4 separate regions of the Homo sapiens genome follow, and all the other regions are linked to region 4. The links come from fine-mapping of genetic effects on gene expression. A gene starts in region 4. Each other region holds a variant in brackets. All regions are shown on one strand. Distances are between the middles of the regions.

Region 1 (7,788 bases), 68 kb before region 4:
ACATTATAGAATAGACTCCATCAGCAAAAGTAAATTTCCTAAAGTGAATCTTACACGGGAAAATTGCAAGTTGAGTTGTAAACTTCTGGAAAATAAATAATTAAAACGGTGGTCAATTCTATAGCATGTGCAGGTGGGGGTGGGTTCAAGGAATTGGGATATTCTACTGAGCTTGTAGAGCCACTCAGCCTTTTACATTTTTCTTGTTTGAGAACTCTGCCACCAAGATCATGCCACTCTGCTCCTTTCAGATTCCCCCATTCTCTACTTCCCGGGGTTGCAAAGGTCAGAGCTAGGCTGCAATACCAATGTCCCACCAGCAGATGCTGCTGTTAAACATAGAATGTTTACATGTTAAATTGTAATTGCTCTAGTTTGAGGCTTAGCAAGTGAGCCCCGTCCTTCTTCAAAGTCGTCACTTTCCAATTCCACGGGGATACAAATGCTTAGAGAGGGCCAGTGTATATGCTGACCTCAGGGAAGAGCTGATCCCATGAGTGAGCAGTCTCCTTTTCTCCTGCAGCTATGACATCGCCCTGCTGCGCCTGGCCCAGAGCGTTACCCTCAATAGCTATGTCCAGCTGGGTGTTCTGCCCCAGGAGGGAGCCATCCTGGCTAACAACAGTCCCTGCTACATCACAGGCTGGGGCAAGACCAAGAGTAAGTTGCCTACATTGGCACAATCCACCACGGGGATCTTGATTAGGTAGCTGAGCTTCTAAGACACCTTTTTCTGTGGTCCTAGGTGCTTATGGCCAGAGACCAGGAGCTAAAAGAACCATAGATACAATAACTGATGCATTATATCAAGCTAAGAATGGGCTGTGAAGTAGTTGACAGATTCATGGACTCTTAGAACAAAAAAAGACTTTATCAGAGAATTTTTTTTACCAGCCCCTCATTTTTAAAATTTATTTATTTATTTAGAGACAGGGTTTTGCTCTGTCACCCAGGCTGCAACCTCCACTTCCTGGGCTCAAGTGATCCTCCCACCTCAGCCTCCTGAGTAGCTGAGACTATAGGCATGTACCACCACACTCAGCTAATTTTTAAATTTTTTTGTAGAGATGGGATCTCGCTATATTGCCTAGGCTGGCCTCGAACTCCTGAGCTTAAGAAATCCTCCCACCTTGGCCTCCCAAAGTGCTGGGATTACAGGCATGTGCCACTGCAGCCAGCCAGCCCTTCATTTTATACATGAGGAAACCAAGGTCCAGAGAAATTAAGGATCCTTAGCTGAGTGTGGTGGCATGAGTCTGTAGTCCCAGGTACTCAGGAGGCTGAGGAAGGAGGATCGCTTAAGCCTGACCAACATGGAGAAACCCCATCTCTACTAAAAATACAAAATTAGCCAGGCATGGTGGTGCATGCCTTTAATCCCAGCTACTCGGCAGGCTGAGGCAGGAGAATCTCTTGAACCTGGGAGGCGGAGGTTGTGGTGAGCCGAGATTGCTCCATTGCACTCCAGCCTGGGCAACAAGAGTGAAACTCCATCTCAAAAAAAAAAAAAAAAAAGAAAGAAAGAAATGGAAACAAGCATGCACAATCCCATTTCTGCTCCATGGAGCTTGCAGGAGCAAACAGAACAGACAGATAAATCATCCACAAATAAGGCCATTCCATGGTGCAACTAAGTTATCCACGAGTGAAAAGAAGCAGGAGTAGGGTTGGTGGCTTGGAGCCTAGGTACAGTAAGCAAGGCTGCCTCCCTGAGGGAAGGGTCCTGTGCGGCCATATAAAGAGAGAAGACAGAGGATCCACCACATGCAACAGGGAGAGAGAAGGAGTTTGCCCTGAGCTCAGCTTTCACGAGAGTTTGGGAAGGTGTGGCAGGGGTGGAAGGTTTTTCTGCTGGACCACATCTGGAGCTGACTGCCAATGCCGTGTGTCCTGTTCAGCCAATGGGCAGCTGGCCCAGACCCTGCAGCAGGCTTACCTGCCCTCTGTGGACTACGCCATCTGCTCCAGCTCCTCCTACTGGGGCTCCACTGTGAAGAACACCATGGTGTGTGCTGGTGGAGATGGAGTTCGCTCTGGATGCCAGGTGAACATTTGCAGGGGGTCCCACCCCAGGTCCCGCCACTCTCTGCCTATCCCTCCACCCCTCTTCCTCACCTCCCTATTCGACACTTACTCTTAGTCCTACACAGACTCAATTTTCTACTCTGGCGTCTAAGTGAGAATGATCCTGTGCTGGTAATTCTACACATGCAGAAACTCAAAGTTGAAAGGAACCTTAAAATTGATCTTGCTCGATGCCCTCACTTCAAAGTTTGTACGTGGCCCAACATTTATATGTTGTTGTTGGTATATGTGTGTGTTCTTAGAATTTGTTACCTAGATTTTTTTTTTGAGATGGAGTTTTGCTCTTGTTGCCCAGACTGGAGTGCAATGGGACGATCTCGGCTCACTGCAACCTCCGCCTCTGGGTTCAAGCAATTCTCCTGCCTCAGCCTCCCAAGTAGCTGGGATTACAGGCATGCACCACCACGCCCGGCTAATTTTTTGTATTTTTAGTAGAGACAGGGTTTCTCCATGTTGCTCAGGCTGATCTCGAACTCCCGACCTCAGGTGATCCACCCGCCTTGGCCTCCCAAAGTGCTGGGACTACAGGCGTGAGCCACCATGCCCAGCCAAATTTGTTACCTAGATTTTTTAATGGCAGCGATGCAGCTGAGCCTGGACAGGTGGTTGTGATGCTGTATAAGCAGTACCCTGCTCCCTCTTACCTATCAGTCCTACTTCTCTTGCAGTTCCTCTACCACCATCCCTTTACCCCAGTGATATTTCTGGCAGTATGTACAGGTGAGTTTGATAGGGGAAAGTGCACAAAATAATTTTATAATAGCTTATATATAACAAATATAACCTTCCTCTATTTTGACAAGATCAATCAGCCATAAACTATCTTACAGATTTCTCTTTTTAAGCTTTTTTTATTATTATTATTTTAATATAGAGATGGGGTCTTGCTTTGTGGCCCAGGCTGGTCTCAGACTCCAGGGCTCAAGTGATCCTCCCACATTGGCCTCCCAAAGTGCTGGGAATACAGGCGTGAGCCACCATGCCCCACCCCAGATTTCTTAATGCAGTTTAACAACTATTCATTATATATCTACTATATGCCAGGCATTGTGCTAAGTGCTAAGGTTACAAAGATGGATCAAACAGTGTCAAGTAAAGAAACCAGAGGCACAGACATACAATAGAACATTGTAATACAATGTGGTTAAGTGTTAATAATCAGGATGTGCACAGGTGATATGGAAGCCCAAGGGTAGGTACCTACCTCTACCTACTGGGGCCAGAAAAGACTTTCCTTCCCCAAGAAACTAGAATTTGTAGTGGGTCCTGAGGGGCAAATAGGAATAGGCCAGGCAAAAAGGAGAAAAGACATTCAGAGGGAGGGAACGGCATGAATAAAGGCAGGGGGCCAAGAAACAACCTAGAGTACATACAGAATTATGGGGCATTCCCTAAGGCTAGAGTAGAGCAGCGGCTGGAGGTCCACAAGCCGAATCTAGCTCACTGCTTGTTTTATATGGCCCATGAGCTTAGAACAGTTATTACATTTTGATTTCTATATATATATATATATATGTATGCGTATGTGTATGTGTGTGTGTGTGTGTGTGTGTGTGTGTGTGTATGTTTTTTTTTTTTCCTGAGATGGAGTCTCACTCTGTCGCCCAGACTGGAGTGCAGTGGCGCAATCTCAGCTCACTGAAACCTCTGCCTCCCGGGTTCAAGCAATTCTTCTGCCTCAGCCTCCCGAGTAGCTGGGATTACAGGCACGCACCACCACATCTGCTAATTTTTGTATTTTTAGTAGAGACAGGATTT[C/T]ACCATGTTTGCAAGGCTGGTCTCGAACTGGCTGGTCTCGGACTCCTGACCTCGTGATCCACCTGCCTCTGCCTCCCAAAGTGCTGGGATTACAGGCATGAGCCACCGCGCCTGGCCATATACATATATATATATATTTGTTTTTTTTTTGAGACAGCGTCTCACTCTGTTGCCCAGGCTGGAGTTCAGTTGTACCATCATGGTTCACTTGTAACCTCTGCCTCCCAGGCTCAAGTGATTTTCCCACCTCAGCCTCCCTAGTAGCTGGGACTACAGGCACATACCACCATACCCAGCTAATTTTTTGTATTTTTTGTAGAGACAGGGTTTCACCATGTTGCCCAGGCTGGAATTATTACATTTATTAATGGTAAGGAAAAAAAATCAGAATAATAATATGTCATGACACATGAAGAATATATAAAATTTCAGTGCCCATAAATAACATTTCACTGGAACACAGTCACAGTTGCTCATTTACAAACTGTTTATGGCTGCTTTTTTTTTTTTTTTTTTTTTTTGAAGAGATAAGGTCTTGCTCTGTCACTCAGGCTGGAGTGCAGTGGTGCCATCTTGGCTCACTGCAGCCTCAACTTCCTGGGCTCAAATGATCCTCCCACCTCAGCCTCCCAAGTAGCTAGGATCACAGGCACATGCCATCACACCCAGCTAATTTTGTTTTGTTTTTGGTAGTGACAAGGTTTCACTATGATGCCCAGGCTGGTCTTGAACTCCTGGCCTCAAGCAATCCTCCTGCCTTGGCCTCCTGGAGTGCTGGGATTATAGGCGTGAGGCACCATGCCCAGCCTATGGCTGCTTTTGTAGTACAACACAAAGTAGTTGCAATCAAGACGGTATGGCCTGCAAAGCCTGAAATATGTACTGTTTGGCCCTTAACAGAAGAGGTTTGCTGACCCGTGGGCTAGAATAGAAGCTACCACCATACTAGGAAATGTCAGGAGGTAAGACTAGAGAGGCAAGCAAGAGCTGTACAACTCAGGGCTTCAAATGCCAGGCTTGGGGACATGAACCTTATCTCTTGGGCATTGGGAAGCCATCAAAGACTTCTAAACAGGAGACTAGCACAACCAGATTCACCTTTTAGAATTGTTCTTTAGGCATGTTTTTGAAGAAGACAAGAGAGGCAGGGAGATTGCCTAGAGGGCTATTGCAATGATCTAAGCAAGAAATTTGAGGGCCTGAATTAAGGCAGTGGTGATAGGAACCGGAGGAGGGAAGGAGGAGGATCTGGAACAACAGCCAAGCATCTGGTTTAAGTGATTTGGGGGAGGGCACTGTTGCCCTGAGACAAGATTTACAGAGTTTGAGAGAGAAGATGATGAGTTTGGTTCTGGACAACCTTTGTCTGAGATCCCAGTGGGACATTCAGGTATAGCAACCAGTAAGAAATTTGGTGTTTTTTTTGTTTTGTTTGAGACGGAGTCTCCCTCTCTCACCCAGGCTGGAGTGCAGTAGCGCGATCTCAGCTCACTGCCCCCTCTGTCTCACGGGCTCAAGTGATTCTACTACCTCAGGTTCCTAAGTAGCCGGGATTACAGGCATGTGCCACAACACCTGGCTAATTTTTGTATTTTTAGTAGAGACGGGGTTTCCCCATGTTGGCCAGGCTAAGTCTCGAACTCCTGACCTCAGCCTCCCAAAGTGCTGGGATTACAGGCATGAGCCACCACGCCTGGCCAAGAAATTAGATAGAAAAAGTGGGGCCTGGGGGAAGAGCTGGGCTAGAGATACCTACTGAGAACAAATCAGATCCCATTCCAGGGAAAAACTGTTCAATGAGAAAAGAGCAGTGGGTTGGGAAAGAACTGTCAGAACATAAATACTTGAGTGTTTCAGGGATAAGTGGAGGATAAAGAAACCACTAGGATCTAAGAAAGGAGAAGTAGATGTAAGATAAAAACCTGGTAATAAGGATATTATGAAATCTCAGGAAGTACTTACAGATATCACATAATATACAATTCACCCAGAAGCCACAGTAGGTAAGAGCTGAAAGTGGCCACTTTGGCAATTGTAACCTTGGCAAGAGCAGTTTCAGTGGAGTGGTGAGGGCAGAAGCTTGTCCGAAGGGTAAGAAATAAAGAGGCAATAAGACATATAACCAGCCGGGTGTAGTAGCTCATGCCTGTAATCCCAAGATTTTGGCAGATTGAGGCAGGAGGATCGCTTGAGCCCAGGAGTTAGAGACCAGCCTGGGAAATGTAGGGAGACTTCATCTCTATGAAAATTTTAAAAATTAGCTGGATGTGGTGGCGTGCACCTGTAACCCCAGCTACTTGGAAGGCTGAGGTGGGAAGATCACTTGAGCCAAGGAGTTCGAGGCTGCAGTGAGCTATGATCGCACCACGGCACTCCGGCCTGGGCAACAGAGTGAGACCCTGTCTCAAAAGAGGACAAAAAAAAAAAAAAAGGAAGAACAAAAAAAGTCTGGTAGCTTTAAGGACAGCAAGTCATGGAGGGAGTGGATCTTCTAAGAGAAGAAAATTGGCCGGGCGCGGTGGCTCCCGCCTGTAATATCAGTGCTTTGGGAGGCTATGGCGGGCAGATCACAAGGTCAGGAGTTCGAGACCAGCCTGGCCAGCATGGTGAAACACCATCTACTAAAAATACAAAAAAGTAGCCAGGCATGGTGGCGCGTGCCTGTAATCCTAGCTACTCAGGAGGCTGAGGCAGGAGAATTGCTCGAACCTAGGAGGCAGAGGTTGCAGTGAGCCAAGATCGCACCACCGCACTCCAGCCTGGGTGACAGAGTGAGACTCCGTCTCAAAAAAAGAGAAAAGAAAATTGAGTGCATAAATAGGCAGAGAGGAAAGAATCCTGTAGAGTCAGACAGAGGTAATAATAATAATGGATGGCACAAGATCCCACAGAAGAAAGAGATGGAACTAAGAGCACAGGTGGAGCTGGCTCTGAACAGGAAGAGGGATACCAGATGTGCACACAGACATAGAAAAGTTTGCTGGATTTGGTAGCCGAACGTTGGCAGGTGTTCTACATTATTGCTTCTAGTTACTCATGAACTAGGAGGAGTCAACTTGACTGCTGAAAATGAAGGGGAAAGGGTTGTATGGGTCTGGACTAGTTAGTGTGAATGGGAGGACAGTCCTCCAAGATGTTGCTGACTGGCTGTTTGGAGACCAGACTACGACCACATGGATATATGATTCACTCTGTTTTACTCAAAGACGGTTTCCTGCATGATTGGGGTAAAAGGACAGGATTGCAGATCAACTGCAAGGTCCAAACTAGATGGAGGAGAGAGAGAAGCTGGCAGGCTGGCTGAAACTATAAAAAATGAAAGGATTAGGCCAGGCGCAGTGGCTCATGCCTGTAATCCCAGCACTTTGGGAGGCCAAGGCAGGCGGATCACGAGGTCAGGAGATCGAGACCATCCTGGCTAACACGGTGAAACCCCGTCTCTACTAAAAATACAAAAAAATTAGCCGGGTGTGGTGGCGGGTGCCTGTAGTCCCAGCTACTCGGGAGGCTGAGGAAGGAGAATGGTGTGAACCGGGGAGGTGGAGCTTGCAGTGAGCTGAAATCGTGCCACTGCACTCCAGCCTGGGCAACAGAGCAAGACTCTGTCTCAAAGAAAAAAAAAAGGATTAAAAAGTTTTTTGTGTGTATGAGTACAAAGAACCATGGAAATAAAGTAGCCAATTCATCCTAGTTTGCCCTAGACTTTCCTGGTATTAACATTTAAAAGTCCTGTATCCCAGGGACTCTACATGGGAATAAGGGGGAAAATAGACTAATGCATAATGCAACCTCTTCTAGGCCTTCATCAGCCAGCTTCACCTATAACCTCCTAAGGTTTAACCTTTCTGAGTGAATACACATGCCTGTGCTCTCCCATAAGCCCTGAGCTCTAAAAAAACGAGTACTTTTCTTCTGGCTGCCACTCCAAATTGACAGTTCTCAGAG
Region 2 (5,000 bases), 43 kb before region 4:
GCCTGGGCGACAGAGCGAGACTCCGTCTCAAAAAAAAAAAAATAATAATAATAATAACAATGCCAGCCAGCCTAATGGCTCATGCCTATAATTGCAGAACTCTGGGAGGCTGAGGCAACAGGATCACTTGAGCCCAGGAGTTCAGCCAGCCTGAGCAACATAGTGAGACCCTGTCTCTACAGAAAATTTTTAAAAATTAGTGAGGTGTGGTGGTGTGAGCATGTGGTCCCAGCTACTGGGGAGGCTGAGGTGGGAGGATTGCTTGAGCCCAGAGAGGTTGAGGCTGTAGTAAGTTGTGATTGCACCACTGTACTACAGCCAGGGCAACAGAGCAAGACCCTGTCTCAAATAAAATAATGACAATAATAACAATGACATTCAGAAAGATATACCTTATTTCTTTCTTTTTTTTTTTTTGAGACAGAGTTTCGCTCTTGTTGTCCAGGCTGGAGTACAATGGTGCGATCTTGCCTCACTGCAACCTCTGCCTGCTGGGTTCAAGCGATTCTCCTGCCTCAGCCTCCCCAGTAGCTGGGATTACAGGCATGCACCACCATGCCCAGCTAATTTTGTATTTTTAGTAGAGATGGGGTTTATCCATGCTGGTCAGCCTGGCCTCGAACTCCCGACTTAAGGTGATCCACCTGCCTTGGCCTCCCAAAGTGCTGGGATTACAAGTGTGAGCCACCACACCCAGCCAGATATACCTTATTTCTTCTGAGCTTTATATTAATATATATCCTCTAGCTCACTACTACGTATCCCCTAGAGCTACCCCTAATTTGAAAAGAACTACAGAACAGGATTGTTTTTTCAGCAGTTTGTTGTATTCCTAATTCTTTTGGTCCAGTAAGAGTACAGCCCTTCAAGGCCAGGCATGTTGGCTCACGCCTGTAATCCCAGCACTTTGCGAGGCCAAGGCGGGTGGATCATTTGTGGTCAGGAGTTCGAGATCAGCCTGGCCAACATGGTGAAACCCCGTCTCTACTAAAAATACAAAAATTAGCTGGGCGTGGTGGTACACGCCTGTAATCCCAGCTACTCAGGAGGCTGAGGCAGGAGAATTGCTTGAACCTGGGAGGCGAAGGTTGCAGTGAGCCGAGATCGTGCCACTGCACTCCAGCCTGGGCAACAGAGTGAGACTCCGTCTCAAAAATAAATAAATAAATAAATAAATAAATAAATAAATAAATAAATAAGTACAGCCCTTGAGTTGTAAGTGAGATTCTTGACTGAAGCCAGGGTCATATGAGGCCAACATGTAAGAGAGACTTGACTATAACCTTACGGGCCTTTCTGACTTATATCCCTAGGTGCTGCAGAAATTGGGGAAAGCTGTAGAAACCAAAGATGAACGATTTGAACAAAGCGCTAGCAACTTCTACCAACAACAGGTAATCTGGAGGGTAGGGGAGGGAAGCTTGGAAGAAGAAAGGAGACACGAGGGCTGAGTGGCAGAAGAACAATAAGTTCTGCAAACTGGCAAACATCTCCACCAAGCCACCCTCCCCCTAGGGTTAAGGGCTACAGGGTGACCTGTTGCTTATCCTTCCTCGGTGAACTAAAGGAATTTACCAGCCAGGCGCAGTGGATCACCCCTATAATCCCAACACTTTGGGAGGGCGAGGCGGGCGGATCACCTGAGGTCAGGAGTTTGAGACCATCCTGGCCAACATGATGAAACCCCGTCTGTACTAAAAATACAAAAAAATTAGCTGGGCATGGTAGTGTGCACCTGTAATCCCAGCTACTCGGCAGGCTGAGGCAGGAGAATCACTTGAACCTGGGAGGCAGAGGTTGCAGTGAACAGAGATCTTGCCATTGTACTCTAGCCTGGGTGACAAGAGTGAAACTCCATCTCAAAAAAAAAGTAAAAATAAAAATAAAGGAATTTACCTTTTTTCTTGCT[G/A]CTGACTGTCATTTTGGGAACAGAGAAATCTCCCTCCCTCCTTCCCTCCCTCCCTCCCTGCCTGCCTGCCTGCCTGCCTTCCTGCCTTCCTTCCTTCCTTCCTTCCTTCCTTCCTTCCTTCCTCTCACTGCAACCTCAACCTTCCAGGTTCAGGCAATTCTCCTGCCTCAGCCTCCCGAGTAGCTGAGATTACAGGTGTGTGCCACCATGCTATGCTAATTTTTTCTTTTTATTTTTAGTACAGACAGGGTTTCACCATGTTGGCCAGGCTGGTCTCAAACTCCTGACCTCAGATGATCCACCCACCTTGGCCTCCCGAAGTGCTGGGATTACAGGCATGAGCCACTGCACCTGGCCCACAAATTCTTTACTATATAAATATCAGTTGAATTATATAGAAAATAATTTTTAAAATTATATTAATGGGTTATTAGCTATCATCTAATTCAGTAGCTGAGTGTATATCAGAATCATTTGGGAAATATTTTTAAATGCAAGTTCTCTGGGAGTAGGGCCTGGGAATCTTACTTTTGAACTTTTTGTTGTTGTTATTGGTTTACCATCTTAGATCTGATGAACTTTTTTTTAATGGAATATTTCAAATATGTACAAAGGCAGATAAACTTGTAAAATGAATTCACATGTACTCATCACTCAGCTTCCATAATTTATCCACTCATGGGCAATCATGTTTCACTGTGTCCCCACTCACTTTCTCCTATCCTTGATTATTATGAAACAAATTCTAGATATATCATTTCATTCGGCAACCTAAGTAACGAACAGAGGGAGGCTGTCTAAGAGAAAAAGATATTTATGCGGGAATAGAGCATTGCAATGGGAATATGTGTACCATAGTAAACTATGAGGTATTCAGGGAGGTAAAGGAAGACACATGTTTTCAAAGGAAAAAATGAGAAGGATTACATGATTCTTTGAAAATAATTATCATTGGCTACAAAGATCAATAATAAGGGTGACACCAGTCCAAGGTTGAACAGGCAGTTGCTGGGCAGAAGTCCTTGCAGAAATATTTTTTGTATAAGGTTGTGATGGCCTTTGTGCAAGGTTGTGGTTTTCATAGGATCTTTTGTGATAATTCTTATCAGGCAAATAAGCATGAGAATGCTCTTTTCATAGCCTTCCCTGGCTCTATTATCAGAGATTTTTTTTTAACACTAGTGACTCCATTTTGATTCCAACAACATTGACACATCTATAAAAATTTCATTATCAGGCCGGGTGCAGTGGCTCACGCCTATAATCCCAGCACTTTGGGAGGCCGAGGCGGGCAGATCACCTGAGGTCAGGAGTTCGAGACCAGCCTGGCCAACATGGTAAAACCCCATCTCTACTAAAAATACAAAAATTAGCTGGGCGTGATAGGACATGCCTGTAATCCCAGCTATTCGGGAGGCTGAAGCAGGAGAATTGCTTGAACCTGGGAGGCGGAAGTTGCAGTGAGCCAAGATCGCACCACTGCACTCCAGCCTGGGTGACAGAGTGATACTCTGTCTCAAAAAGAAAAAAAAAATTCATTATCAATCTCTAAAAATAGAACTCTTTTAAAATGTAACTACAATACCATTATCACACCTCAAAATATTTTTCTATACAACATTTACTTGGCCAGGCATGGTGGCTTATGGCTGTAATACTAGCACTTTGAGAGGCCAAAGCAGGAGAATCAATTGAGCCTAGGAATTCAAGACCAGCCTGGGCAACATAGCAAGATCCCGTCTCTACAAAAAAATACAAAAATTAGCCAGGTGTGGTAGCACATGCTTGTAGTCCCAGCTACCTGGGAGGCTGAGGTAGGAGGATTGCTTGACCCCAGGAATTCCAGGCTGCAGTGAGCTATGATCATACCAGTGCATGCCAGCCTAGGCAGCAGAGCAAGACCTGGTCTCAAAAATGAATAAAGTATAAATAAAATATGTACTCATTACAACAAATCAGAAAGTACATGGTTGGGTACAGTGGCTCACACCTCCCAGTGGGAGGCCGAGGTGGGAGGGTTGCTAAGACTAGGAGTTTGAGACAAACCCGGCAACACAGGAGACCTTAACTCTACAAAAAATAAGAAAAATTAGCTGGGCATGGTGGTGCACGTCTGTGGTCCCAGCTACTGAGCAGTGAGCTGTGATTGTGCCACTGCACTCCAGCCTAAGCAACAGAGCAAGACCCTGTCTCAAAAGAAAAAAAAAAAAGCCCCTACATAAAGAAAAAAGAAAGAAATGAATTTAAAAATTAATAATAGGCCCAACATGGTGGCCCACACCTATAATCCCAGCACTTTGGCAGCCCAAAGTGCTGAGCTCAGAAGTTTGCGACCAGCCTGGGCAACATGGCAAAACCCCATCTCTACAAAAAATACAAAAATTAGCTGGTCATGGTGGTGTGCTCCTGTATTCTCAGCTACTTGAGAGGCTGAGGCAAGAGGACTGACTGAGTCTCAGGTCGAGGCTACAGTGAGCTTTGTTTGTGCCACTGCACTCCAGTCTGGGTGACAAAGTGAGACCCTATCTCAAAAAAAAGGAAAAGAAAACAATATAAACAAAACGATTATGATTTTACATCTTCCTAAACTACAACAATGTTATTTTATATCTTTACAATTACTTTGCTATGTATGTGTATGATATCTAAGTATATCCACAATAAATAAATGTGAGATTTACTAAAGTGAGATTCTTCCATGCATATGATTTTGCAACTTGCCTTTTTCACTTACCAGTGTCATACAAATCTTTTCAGATATTTCAGATTAAATATTTCACTAAAATGTAAGTTTTAGTGCTATCTTTTAAAAAAACCAGAATCATTTCTTAATATCACAAAATATCCTGTCAGTGTCCAAATTCCCCTGATTGTGTCTTCATGCTTTTTATGGTTTGTTTAAATCAGCAACTCACTGACATGTTTAAGTTTATTAGATTTAAGGTCATATCTCTTAATCTATATTCTAATCCCTCCCTTCTTGTAGCTTATTTGTTAATGATACTAGGTTGTTTGTCCTGCAATTTCCTACAGTGTATATTTTGCTGATTGAATTCCCATGATATTGTCTAATATGTTCCTATGTCTTCCA
Region 3 (5,000 bases), 52 kb before region 4:
CAGTGGTGGGCTGAGGGGCGGGCCTCAGGGCTGGCCAGGGGCGGCCTGAGGTGGCTCAGGGCTGGGGCCGGATGCGAGGCATGCCGGGAGCCCGCACTTCCTCCTCGGGGGCCTCAGAAAACCACAGGGCGCGGGGCCAGGGCGGCGGCCCCCAGGGAGTTGGCAGGATGGCAGAGGGCAAGGCAGGCGGCGCGGCCGGCCTCTTCGCCAAGCAGGTGCAGAAGAAGTTTAGCAGGGCCCAGGAGAAGGTAGGTGGCCGGGCCTCGCTGTCTGTCTGGCCCACAGGGAGCCGAGGCCGAGGCCGAGCCCGGCCGGGCAGGAGGGGCGGGCAGGGTGCTCAGGGGCCCCGAAGGGTCTGGGCTGACGAGAAGGGTCTCCCGCTCTCCCAGGGAAACGGGAGCGAGGAGTGGGCTTCCATGAAAACTGGCAGATTGGAGAGAGGTCGGAGACCGCCACCCGATCTTGGGCAAGGATAAGGGAAGCTGGGGAGACAACAGTCTCTGGGCAGAACCTTCGACAACCCTCAGGCTGACCCAGAAAAGGTGAAAGAAAGGAAGTGATGGTGGTGGCCACCTTTGTATCAAATTTTGTGCTAGCAATCCAAAATTGGTATTTTACAGATGATGAAATTGGAGGGTAATTTTCCATAGAGGGCAATTTCCCCAAAAACAGCGATGCAGCGGATGCCAGCAGGCACCCCCCACCAAAGGCTTAGAATAATCCTGCATAGTTCTCCCCCTACCTGACCCTGCCTGGCCTCTGGGTGGTGTTTCAGCTGACGTAAGCAGGAGCCCAAATCTGCTTCTTCTACCCTCCCTTTGGCGTTGGGGAGTACACCTCCCAGGGTGATGAACCACATCTGTGTTCAGAGTGTGTCCTTGGTTAGTGTCAGGTAGCCCTGCTCCAGCACTGGCACTTAGGTGGGCTGCCCATCTATTACTTGCTTGGCAATCTAAATTGTGGGGACATTCTCTACACATTTTGATGGCATTTTTGTTTCTACCTGTACAGAATATTTTCTTTGCTTCTAACCTGAGCCTCTGCTCTCCACCTACCAACCCTCTAGTAGACAAGGCGGTTTGGGAAGACATGTCAGCCAGAAGAAAGAGCGAGGGAAGAAAGACAAGAAGGACCTGAGATAGAGTTTCGGTTTTCCTTTTTTTCTCTCTCTCTTTATTAAGCCCAACCTGCCTTCTACAACGGAGAAGTTTTGGTTTTCTAAGAGCTGATGGACTTAGAAGCATTTGGATGAACAGCTCTGCTTACCAACTGAAATATCCCTATTATCTTCTAAAAGTGGAGCACTGCTTTGAGCCCTGGGAAGGCTTAAAGGCAACCAGCTCTCCCGAGTTGATTTATCAGCAGAAAACTGATGGAATGTAGATGTAGCTCCTGACTTTAAGAGACCACAATGGAAGGGAGGTTATTTTCTATCATTTGAGGTCATGTGAAAGAGAGGAGGAAAAGGGAAAGAGTTCGTGTAGCCAGACTTCGTTACTTCACTTACCCTAACTTCACCTTGATCCTAGTTTCAGCCTCTCTGAAGACTTACAAATCTGGTAGACCCGAGAGCAGGGCCTATGGGAAGGTCTAGCTCGAAACAGTGTGGGCGAGCAGGAGGTACTGGAGAGAAGGCCACACTGTGGTTGAAAAAAAAAAAAACCCTAAAAGACAAAACACTCATGAATGATAGTAATTTTAAAAAGACATACCAGCCAGGCACAGTGGCTCACTCCTGTAATCCCAGCACTTTGGGAGGCCAAGGTGGGAGGACTGCTTGAGCCCAGGAGATCAAGACTGCAGTGAGCAGTGATCACACCACACCACACTCAAGCAGAGGGAGACTCTGTCTCAAAAAATAAAAATAAATACATAAAAATAAAAGACATACAATTGATTGTATTTCACTCTTGCATCTTCTGTCTTCATCTAGCCTCTCGTCAACACTAAAACCTTGCTTTGGGCTTT[CACTCCTTTG/G]TAAGCATAGACTCCAAACCTTGGCTAAATAATGTCCTGCTCTGGGCTTCAGATCTTGCACCTGTAAAATGAGAGGGTTGATGTTCTTGATGAAACTCAATATGGTAAGAACACTAAATTGAAAAGCTGTCACATTAGACTCAGAGTCAAATACTTCCCAAAGACAGAACCAGTCTCTCAGGTTCTTCTGGCCTGAACCCTGAGGAAGTAGAGAAAGAGGAGCAAACTCAAATCTGCCATGAGGAATTCCCAGCTGATGAAGAAAACAAGATATTCTGAACCTAGACTAGACAAAAGGGTAGGCAAAGGTTGAACTTCGATAAGGTGGGAATGGCCTGGGATGCCGGAAGGGAGCTCAGCTCCGTCAGCCTGAAGCCAGTCCTTGAGTCTTGGGAAGTTATTGAGACCAAGATAAAGAGGGAGAAATTTGCACTAAAATGAAAGAATTCCTTGCAACACTTTTTGCTTTTTCTGCAAGCAGTTGGATGTAATCTTCTGAGTAATAAGTAATAGCTAATGTGTCAAATAGTGAAATGTGTCAAATATCAAGCGCCTATTATGGACCAGAGACAGGGATATAAGAAAGTGATTATCAGCGGGGTGCAGTGGCTCACGCCTGTAATCCCAGCACTTTGGGAGGCCCAGGCAGGTGGATCTCCTGAGGTCGGGAGTTCGAGACCAGCCTGACCAACATGGAGAAACCCCGTCTCTACTAAAAATACAAAATCAGCCGGGTGTGGTGGCGCATGCCTGTAATCCCAGCTACTCAGGAGGCTGAGGCAGGAGAATCGCTTGAACCTGGGAGGCGGAGGTTGCCGTGAGCCGAGATCGCGCCATTGCACTCCAACTTGTGCAACAAGAGCAAAACTCTGTCTCAAAAAAAAAAAAGACAAAGTGATTCTCTCTCCCTTTATGGAGCCAACATTCTACCGATGTCATCTCCCTTCATCTATTCAACACTTTAAGCAGGTTATTAGCATCTCTGTTTTAGAAATAAGGAAACAAGGCTCAAAAGAGATTGGTAGGTAGCAGAAATATTACTGAAACCCAGGTGTCCTGCCTCTGAATCCTAACCTCACTCAGGCTGCTGCTTTACAACGTTCCTGATAAGCCACTCTCACATCTGTGCCTCCCCCACTTCCTGCTGATCCTCTCTCAGGAACAGAGCTCAGAAGTAGAAACACTTTTTGTTCAGGCATCCTCTGAAAAGCTGGGAGTGGAGGTCTGGTGACCATTAAACACAATAGGGATGAAACATTCTTGGTCTGTTTTCCATTTCCCGCCCAAACTCAACATGGGACTGAATTTAAGCTGGCTTTAGAGTGTGTGTGTGTGTGTTTGTGTGTGTGTGTGTGTTTTTAGTATGATACATCTTCTCATTTCCAACTATAGTACTGCTTTCACCATCTGTTTGTGATTTCTCTGTGGCAAACCTCTCAGATCCCCCTGAGAAGGGGCGTTGTTTACCACTCCTTTGTTGGTCTTCTCCTCTGTTGACATCTACTCAGCTTAAATCCCAGAGGGTTAAATTCCACAAATATTTACAGAAAAACTCCTTTGTTCAGGGTACTGGGCTGGACCCAGCAGGGAATTTAGGGGTAAGAGACATTCTTGCTTTGCCAAAAGCTTAAGATCTAGTTAAAAAAAAAAAAAAAAAAGAATAATGATAATAAAATAACTGACCTGAGAGATGCAGGTCTATTCAGAGGACAAAAGGATTGGGGAGAATCGAGAGGTTTTATAGTGGAGGCTGAATTTGAAATAGGAATTATGGGAGATTAGTAGTTTTTCAGACACGTGATCAGAGAGCATTCTAGCTGAGAAGTGCCAGCATAAGCAAGGCATGGAGACTGGAGTGAGAACTACAGCTCAGCTGGAGCACAGGGAGTGGTCAGAGCAAAGGCTGGAAAAAGTATATTAGGACCTTTTAAGGAAAGCTTACTTTATCATATATCCTAAAAATAAAGATTTCCGGCCAAGCGCCATGGCTCATGCCTGTAATCCCAACACTTTGGGAGGGCGAGGTGGGTAGATCACCTGAGGTCAGGAGTTCGAGACCAGGCTGGCCAATGTGGCGAAATCCCAGGAGTTCGAGACCAGGCTGGCCAATGTGGCGAAATCCCATCTCTACCAAAAAATACAAAAATTAGCCTAGTGGTGCACACCTGTAGTCCTGGCTGCTTGGAGGCTGAGGCAGGAGAATCGCTTGAATCTGGGAGGTGGAGGTTGCAGTGAGCTGAGATTGTGCCACTGCACTCCAGCCTGGGCAATAGAGCTAGACTCTGTCTCGAAAGTAAGAAAGAAAGAGAGGGAGAAAAGGAAGGAAGGAAGGAAAGAGAAAGATTTCCTACATAACCACAAAAATTTACTGCACCTAAGAAAAAATTTTAGCAAAATTTTATAATATCAAATATCCAGGCCCTATGCAAATTACCCCAATTGAGGGAATTAACTAAAATATAATAAATGATTATGGGAGAGGCAATGGTAGGGAACTATAGCCACCAAAGATATATGTAGTAATTTTTTTTAAAGCTCTATTTCCACCCCAACCCTGATCTACAGAAAAGTTATAAATAATCAATGAACACTGGAATATTTTTCATGCAGATTCACCAAGTGTTAACGTTTTGCCACATTTACTTTTTTGCCTTGCTCTTGCTCTTTCTCCTTAAATATCTATATTCTAATTTAGCTGCCAGGCCAGATAAATTGGGACAGAATTCTCAAAGCAGGATTTTAGGGATTAGCATTATATGGGTTTTCATTAGGAAGTGATCCAAAAGTAGAATTTATTCATTGTTTCAACAAACATCTGTTTAGCATCTGTACACCCTGTTCCCTCAAGGGTCTTTCGTTGGGAAGAACACCCATGACACAGTATAAGTGCCCTAACATGTACCTGTTGCTTATGGCAACAAATTACTTTGGCTCCAGAGTACTGGGGTATGTTTCAGGGTGGTAACACCTTTTCACTTTCAGAGTTGGAGGGTGAGGAAGTTTCTCTCAGTACCCCCCAACCC
Region 4 (7,788 bases):
TGCTGGGATTACAGGTGTGAGCCACCATGCCCGGCCTCATGAGATGTTTTGATATAAGCATGCAATGCATAATAAAATCATATCATGGAGAATGGAGTATCCATCCCCTTAAGCATTTATCTTTTGTGTTAAAAACAATCCAATTACACTATTTTAGTTATTTTTAAATGTACAATTAAGTTATTATTTATAGTCACCCTGTTGTGCTACCAAATAGTAGGTCTTAAGGTCTTATTCTTTTTTTTTTTTTTTTTGTACCCATTAATCATCCCCACCTCCCTCCCTAAGGTTACTTTTTTTTGGTTGAGGGGAAAGGATCTTGCTATATCTCCCAGGCTGGAGTGCAGCCTTCACCCCCAGGGCTCAAGTGATCCTCCCACCTCAGCCTCCTGACTAGCTGGGACCACAGGTGCATGCCACGACTCCTGTCTAACTTTTTTTGTATTTTGTAGAGACAGTGTTTCAACATGTTGCCCAGGCTGGTCTCAAACTCCTAGGCTTAAGTGATCTGCCCACTGTGGCCTCCCAAAGTGCTGGGATTATAGGTGTAAGGTTACTTGTTTTTTTTTTTTTTTGAGTCAGAGTCTCACTCTGTTGCCCAGGCTGGAGTGCGTTGGTGCAATCTCGGCTCACTGCAACCTCCACCTCCAGGGTGCAAAAAGGTTCTCCTGCCTCAGACTCCGAAGTAGCTGGGATTACAGGCTCCCGCCACCACACTCAGCTAATTTTTGTATTTTTAGTAGAGACGTGGTTTCGCCATGTTGGCCAGGCTGATCTCGAACTCCTGACCTCAGGTGATCTGCCTGCCTTGGCCTCCCAAAGTGCTGAGATTACAGGCGTGAGCCACTGCGCCCCACCAGTTACATTTTAAAGAGAAAAAAAAGATGCTTATTGAAAGAACATTACTAACAACTGTCGAAATTGTGAAAGTGACAGCAAATCAGTAGAGTCAGTCAGTTGAGCCAGATAGCCTCTGAGTCTGTAGTTCTTTTTTTCTTTTTTTTTTGTCGCCCAGGCTGGAGTGCAGTGGCACAATCTCGGCTCACTGCAACCTCCGCCTCCCGGGTTCAAGCGATTCTCCTGCCTCAGCCTCCCCATTAGCTCGGATTACAGGCGCCTGCCACCACGTCCAGCTAATTTTTATATTTTTAGTAGAGACAGGGTTTCACTGTGTTGGCCAGGCTGGTCTTGAACTCCTGACCTTGTGATCCACCCGCCTCGGCCTCCCAAAGTGCTGGGATTACAAGTGTGAGCCACCGCGCCTGGCTGAGTCTATAGTTCTAAACAATCTTCAACACATAATAGAAAATGTGAAAGAGACAGACCCAGGTCCAAGAACGATCTGAACTTCTCCTGGAATTCATGATCAAGGTGGACAGCTAGAAGTATGTCAATGCCAGCAATTGTCCTCCTTTGGATTTAGCCCTCTAGGATTTTAATTTCCTTTTCTCTTGGATATTCTCTTATCTAAGGACAAGCCAGGCTCACCTTTCTTTTATTAAGTTACATATGCATAGCTGGCATATCACTTTCTTTGCCTTTCTTGGTTGGATTGGCATTTTCCCATGCACATATTTACATATATTTCTCACAATATATTTATATAAAATGAATTTCATCACTTTTTTATTGTTTGTTTTCCTCCTGTATTTGTGTTTGTTTTTTTCTTTTGAGACGGAGTTTTGCTGTTGTTGCCCAGGCTGGAGTGCAATGGTGTGATCTCGCCTCACTGCAACCTCTGCCTCCCAGGTTCAAGCAATTCTCGTGCCTCAGCCTCCAGAGTAGCAGGGATTACAGGTGTGTGCCACCACGCCCAGCGGATTTTGTATTTTTAGTAGAGACAGGGTTTCACCTTGTTGGCCAGACTGGTCTCAAACTACTGACCTCAAGTGATCCACCCGCCTCCCAAAGTGCTGGGAGCCACAGTGCCCTGCCCTCTGGTTTCTTTTATAATGAACACTTTAGGAATAAAAGCAACTACTCTTGCTTTGCTTGTGACTTTGTTTTGTTTTCTCCCTTTATGCCTCTCTCCTCTGAGACCTTCCCTTTCGGTCTGTTCCCGGATTAACATGCACAATCTGATGATGCCTGTCTTTCTACAGAAAGTATTTCTGTATAAATACTGGTTTACAAACCTACAGAACGCCTAGGAGTGCGAAGTAAGCACAGAAGTCTATCACTGGGAGGGAAAGAATAATCACAAGGGTTCCAATCCTAAACGGGAAGCCAAGGTAACAAGACCTAGCGTTTATTGAGCACTTACTATGTGCCAGGCAAGGTTCTAATGCCTTACAGTACATATTTACTAACCTATTTCGTCCCAACAGTCACTCTATTCAGACAGGTATTGCCCCAGATAAGAGAAACGGAACAGAAGCAGCTTGTCCAAGATCACACAGCAGAGCTGATTCCAGTGCCTGCGCTATATACTATTACATCCTCTTAGTCACTGAATTCTTCTGATTAATTTGGGAACATTTCCTGCCACAAACGAGTGAGTCAAGAGGTAGCTAAAGCATGGCACTGATTATTCAAATTGAGGTGCTCACCATGCTTCTAGAACCATGGATATGAGATGGCTTTACAGGCATGATCACTTTCAGACCCGCATTTTAGGAATGAGGAAACAGATTTTCGAGATGTTAATTTGCCCAAAGTCACCCAGCTAGCAAGCAGAAGAGCTGGGGCTGTTTGAATCCAAAGTCCACGGCACTCCTAACCGCTGCTCAACGCTGCCCCACAAGAACGTCCAGCTGGCAAGACCCGGGTGGGGCTCGTTGCTCTCCCCGCTTCACCTCCCTGCTTCACGGCCGGGGGTGTGCTGGCTAAGTTCGCTCATCTGCCAAGCTTCAGGACACAGACCTATGTGAGCAAGCGATAAACAAATGCAAATAAATGTAACTTTCCACATTAGCTAAAAATTCAGAGAACGTCAAGCCCAGGGAAATGGGACGGATCCCAGTTAGCCCGCGGCTCCAATCTGGTCCCCCCCCAACCCCGAGCCTCGCGGCGAGAAAGGAAGCGGCTCCGGATGGAGAGTAAAGTGACAATCGGAGAAGGGCAGGCTGCCTTTCCTCCCGGGGGAGCCAAGGGGACCTGCAGAGGGCGGTTTCTCTCCGCTTTTCCTGTCCCACCCCGTCGGCCTGCCCCCCACCCCCTCCGGCCTCTGCGCCAACCCCGCGCGCCACCCGCGGCTTCCTCCGCTCGGGGTCCTCGTTCGGCCTCTGCTGGCCTCCGCGACTCCGCGGTGCCCGCCCCCGTTGAGTTCAAAAGGACGCGCGGAGCGGCGCCGGCCCTTCACCAGCAGCCCGTCCGACTGGAAAGGTGAGCACGAGGGAAGGGCGGGGGCGCCGGAGAGCCGGGTCGCCCACATTCGCCGCAGCCACCTCGGCCGTGGCAGGAACCGAAACCCGGAGCGGCCGAAGCTCAGCGCTCCGCTGGGGCAGAGGGTCGCGGCGGCTGGGAACGCCGCTCCCCGACGCACCGGCCGCCCCCAGCGCAGCGCGCTCCGCGGGGTGCTGGTAACGCGGGGGGCTCGGGGCGGGGGCGGGGACGGGGGCGGGGCCGCGGGGCGAGGACCAACCCAGCCCGTCGCGTCCACCCCGCGTTCGCAGGGGCGTCGAGGATCTCCGGGGCGCGGGGCGCGGGCTGGGGCCCAGTGAGGCTTGGCAGGCTGTGCGCGGACCGCGCCCTGGACGGCGAAAGCAGGCCCGGAGGGGGCGGCCAGTCCGGCGTCCCAGCGTCCGAGGCGAGCCAGAAGGCGGCCCACGGCCGTCGCCTCCCGGTCCCGGCCCGGCTACTGCGCTGCGCCCACTCCGCTCTGGAGCCTGGGCGCGGGTCCTGACCTTCCCGGCCCTCTCCTGACACCTGGTGGATGGCGTCACCAGAACTCCTAGCTGTGGAACCCTAGGGTACCTGTTACCGCGCTTTGGCGAAACTGGGTTCGCTGCTGATTTGCGAACCTTTGCCTGACTTTCTCAGGCCTTGAGAGATCTAAGTAAATTTGGTGGCCCATTGAAAGGACCTGGAGAGAGCGTATGAAGGTAACACCCCGTCAAACTGCATGCGGCCTCAGACCTGCTCCTGTGGAGAGCTGTTGGTACCTGGAGCCTGAGGAGATATTCAGGGAAACCAGAAGAGGACAAGAGAAAAAGGGGAAGGGACTTGGGAGAACCTGGCACCAGAGGCTTTCCTGGGACTTCCAGGACTCAAAGCCATAGGGGCCCACCCGCTACATTCCTGTCTTTGCCCCTCTTCCTACAGATCTGCCTCTTCTCCAAGAAACTCAACCACTAGTGACAATGACCAGCCTCCTGACTACTCCTTCTCCAAGAGGTAGGTGAAGGCCTTTCCTAATCCCAGTGAGAAAGAATTGTTCAACATCCCCTTCCCCAGACCAGTCCTGGAAGCCTCAGCCCAGGTGGGAAGACTCCCACCTCTCTCTGCCTGCCTCACACAGGAAGGGCCTGGGAGGAAGCAGGAACTAGAGTGTGCCCCTTAGTACGGTTTTAATCTGAAGTCACATGGACATGGTGACTTCACAAATCTTTGTAACCTCGGTTTATCAAATAATTTTATGTCGGTAATCCCAGGACTTTGGGAGACTGAGACAGGAGGATCTCTTGAGGCTAGGTGTTTGAGACCTGCCTGGGGAACATAGTGAGACCCCATTGCTAATTCAAAAGAAAGAAAGAGGCCGGGCGTGGTGGCTCATGCTTGTAATGCCAGCAGTTTGGGAGGTCGAGGTGGGCGGATCATCTGAGGTCAGGAGTTTGAGACCAGCCTGGCCAACATGGTGAAACTCCATCTCTACTAAAAATACAAAAAAATTAGCCAGGCGTGGTGGTGCACGCCTGTAATCCCAACTACTCAGGAGGCTGAGGCATGGGAATCGCTTGAACCTGGGAAGCACAGGTGAGCCGAGATCGTGCCATTGCACTCCAGCCTGGGCAACAAAGTGAGACCGGTCTCAAAAAATAGGAAGGGAGGGAGGAAAGGAAAGGAAGGAAGGAAGGAAGGAAGGAAGATTATTGTATAAGCCTAAAGGAAGGGCTTTACATTCATCTGTCTAATAATTTATAGCTATGGCAAAGAATGTAGCAGAAACCCTTGTAATTAAATGTGGAAAAGGAATCTTCAAAGATAACAGGGAAATCATTTTTTAAAAACCTGCTAAAGATAGTATTGCTAACCTCTAAGCTCCGGTTTCATCATTCACAAAATAGGGAAAATAGTACCTATCTTATGATTTATGAAGATTAAATGAGACAACCCATATAAAACACCTAGAAGAGTGTGTAGTATCTCGTAAGCACTCAGTCACGTTGGTTATTAGCACTGAGTACTTGTTAGAAACCCATCTTTCCCTTGAAAGTGATTTTGCTGGCTTTCTCATTCCACTCCTCTGGTGATACAGACCCAGCATCAAAACCCCATTGTTCCCTGAAGGTGTGCGGAGGCCGGGCACTACTGCTCAGCACTCTGAGAATGGATGCCCACCTTTTAGTTCATCATCAGGCTGGGCCGGACAAACTATCAGTTATTTATTGACTGTTTTCAGCATGTGCTAGTTAGGGAGAGAGAGGAACAAACCCTTGGTTGGTCTATACACCTTTGTCTTCCTATACACAGTCACATTTGTCATTAGGACAGGCATTCTCTGCTTTTACTGATGTGGAAACAGGTGAGTGACACCACCAGTGGAAGTCTAAGACAGTGTCCTCTGTGACTGGTAATGCACACAATTCAGACTTTTAGTTGTCTGGTGAGAAGAGATAAAAGAGAGAAATGGCCAGGTATGGTGGCTCACGCCTGTAATTCCAGCACTCTGGGAGGTTGAGGCAGGCAGACTGAGCTCAGGAGTTCGAGATCAGCCTGGGCAACATGGCGAAACCCCATCTCTACAAAAAAATTTAAAAATTAGCCGGGCTTGGTGGTAGACACCTGTGGTTCCAGCTACTCCAAAGGCTTAGGTGGGAGGATCCCTTGAGCCCAGGAGATGGAGGTTGCAATGAGCCGAGATCATGCCACTGCACTCCGGCCTAGGTGACAGAGCAAGACCCTGTCTTAAAAAAAAAAAAAAAGAGTTAGGGGGACACGGAGTGGGGGGGGGGAATAGGTCAGCAAAGGCTTCATGGGTGGGTGAGGAAGGGGATCTGAGTCTTGCCCTTGAAAGACGGACAAGGTTCATACAGGCAAAGGGGCGCAGCAGGTATCTTAGAGAAACGTAGAATACCTTTTTCGTGTGTACCTGCTCTAGATAAAGGTAGAATACCTCATACCATGTGTGAAGCTACAGAGACGATTTACCCTGGAGGATGTTCAGGAAGCGGGTGGGCAGAGGACCTCCAGAATAATCCTGCCCACAAGGGAAAAAAGGTGATACCTTGGCAGCTAGCTGAGGGATTAGAACCTTGGCAAGGGGGAGCTGTTTACATTTTTTAAATTTTATTATTATTATTTTTGAGACCAAGTCTTGCTGTGTCACCCAGGCTGGAGTACAGTGGCTTAATTTCGGTTCACTGCAACCTCCGCCCCCTGGGTTCAAGCAATTCTCCCACCTTAGTCTCCCTAGTAGCTGGAATTACAGGCGTGCGCTACCACGCCTGGCTAATTTGTATACTTTTAGTGGAGACAGGGTTTCGCCATGTTGGCCAGGCTGGTCTCAAACTCCTGGCCTCAAGTGATCTGCCCTTCTCGGCCTCCCAAAGTGCTGGGATTACAGGCTCATGCCATTTTTTCTTTTTTAAAATTTATGGTAAAATAAACATAGTACAGGTATTACCATTTTAGCCATTTTTTCGCAGACAATTCAGTGGTAGAGTAGTCCCCGCTTATCCACAGGGGATTCATTCCAAAAACCCCAGTGGATGCCTGAAATCTCAGATAGTACTGAACCCCATCTATACTGTGTTTTTTCCTGTACATACATACTTATGATAAAGCTTAACTTGTAAATTAGGCACAGTAAGAGATTAACAATAATAATAAAATAGAACAACTATAACAATATACTGTAATAAGAGTTATGTGAAAATGGTCTCTCTCACTTAAAATGTCTTATTTACTATAGATCTTAGAAACCTCAGTACACAGTTCTTTTTTTTTTTTTCTTAAGTCAAGAACTTTCACCTTTTCACTTAAAGGAAGCACTTCTTGTTGGCATGTCCAAATTGCATCACTATTCTTGTGCTTTGGGGCCACTGTCATGTAAAATAAGGGTTACTTGAACACAAGCGCTGTGGTACTCTACTAAGCGTTTATAGCATGGACACAAAAGGATGATTCACTTTCCAGGCAGGATGGAGCAGGGTGTGAGATTTCATCACGCTACTCAGAACGGTACATAATTTAAAATGTATGAATTGTTCCTTTCTGGAATTTTCTTTTTCTGTTAAATTTCTATTTAATGTTTTCGGACTGCAGTTGACCACGGGTAACTGAAACCTAGGAAAGCAAAACCGCAGATAAGAGGGGACTACTGTTGTTTTTTTTTTTTGAGACGGAGTCTCGCTCTGTCACCCAGGCTGGAGTGCAGTAGCGCCATCTCAGCTCACTGCAAGCTCCGCCTCATGGGTTCACGCCATTCTCCTGTCTTAGCTTCCCGAGTAGCTGGGACTACAGGCGCCCACCACCACGCCCGGCTAATTTTTTGTATTTTTAGTAGAGACGGGGTTTCACCGTGTTAGCCAGGATGGTCTTGATCTCCTGACCTCGTGATCCGCCCACCTCGGCCTCCCAAAGTGCTGGGATTACAGGCCAGTGCCTGGCCTGGGGGGACTACTGTAT

What was found.
Region 1: its variant is fine-mapped to the expression of SMAGP in whole blood (TOPMed, PIP above 0.99).
Region 2: its variant is fine-mapped to the expression of SMAGP in whole blood (TOPMed, PIP above 0.99).
Region 3: its variant is fine-mapped to the expression of SMAGP in whole blood (TOPMed, PIP above 0.99).

The regions. Positions count from the first base shown.
Region 1 is chr12:51,334,116-51,341,903 of GRCh38, reverse strand. It overlaps CELA1 (chymotrypsin like elastase 1), which reads left to right. Exons shown (of 8, transcript NM_001971.6): 5 at 524-660; 6 at 1,899-2,044. Among named protein-coding and RNA genes, the nearest start is that of CELA1, 8.7 kb to the left of the region's middle. The variant C/T (reference allele first, on the strand shown) is at 3,844.
Region 2 is chr12:51,310,217-51,315,216 of GRCh38, reverse strand. It overlaps BIN2 (bridging integrator 2), which reads left to right. Exons shown (of 13, transcript NM_016293.4): 2 at 1,314-1,394. Among named protein-coding and RNA genes, the nearest start is that of BIN2, 11 kb to the left of the region's middle. The variant G/A (reference allele first, on the strand shown) is at 1,910.
Region 3 is chr12:51,319,270-51,324,269 of GRCh38, reverse strand. BIN2 (bridging integrator 2) reads left to right here and starts at 96. Exons shown (of 13, transcript NM_016293.4): 1 at 96-248. The coding sequence starts at 168. It overlaps LOC105369767 (a long non-coding RNA gene), which reads left to right and starts at 262. Exons shown (of 2, transcript XR_944957.3): 1 at 262-542; 2 at 1,067-1,902. RefSeq lists silencers at 1-350, 3,331-3,625 and enhancers at 381-570, 4,876-5,000. The variant CACTCCTTTG/G (reference allele first, on the strand shown) is at 1,969.
Region 4 is chr12:51,265,792-51,273,579 of GRCh38, reverse strand. SMAGP (small cell adhesion glycoprotein) reads left to right here and starts at 3,165. Exons shown (of 4, transcript NM_001031628.2): 1 at 3,165-3,324; 2 at 4,264-4,335. The coding sequence starts at 4,302. RefSeq lists silencers at 3,107-3,186, 3,227-3,896 and an enhancer at 2,991-3,491.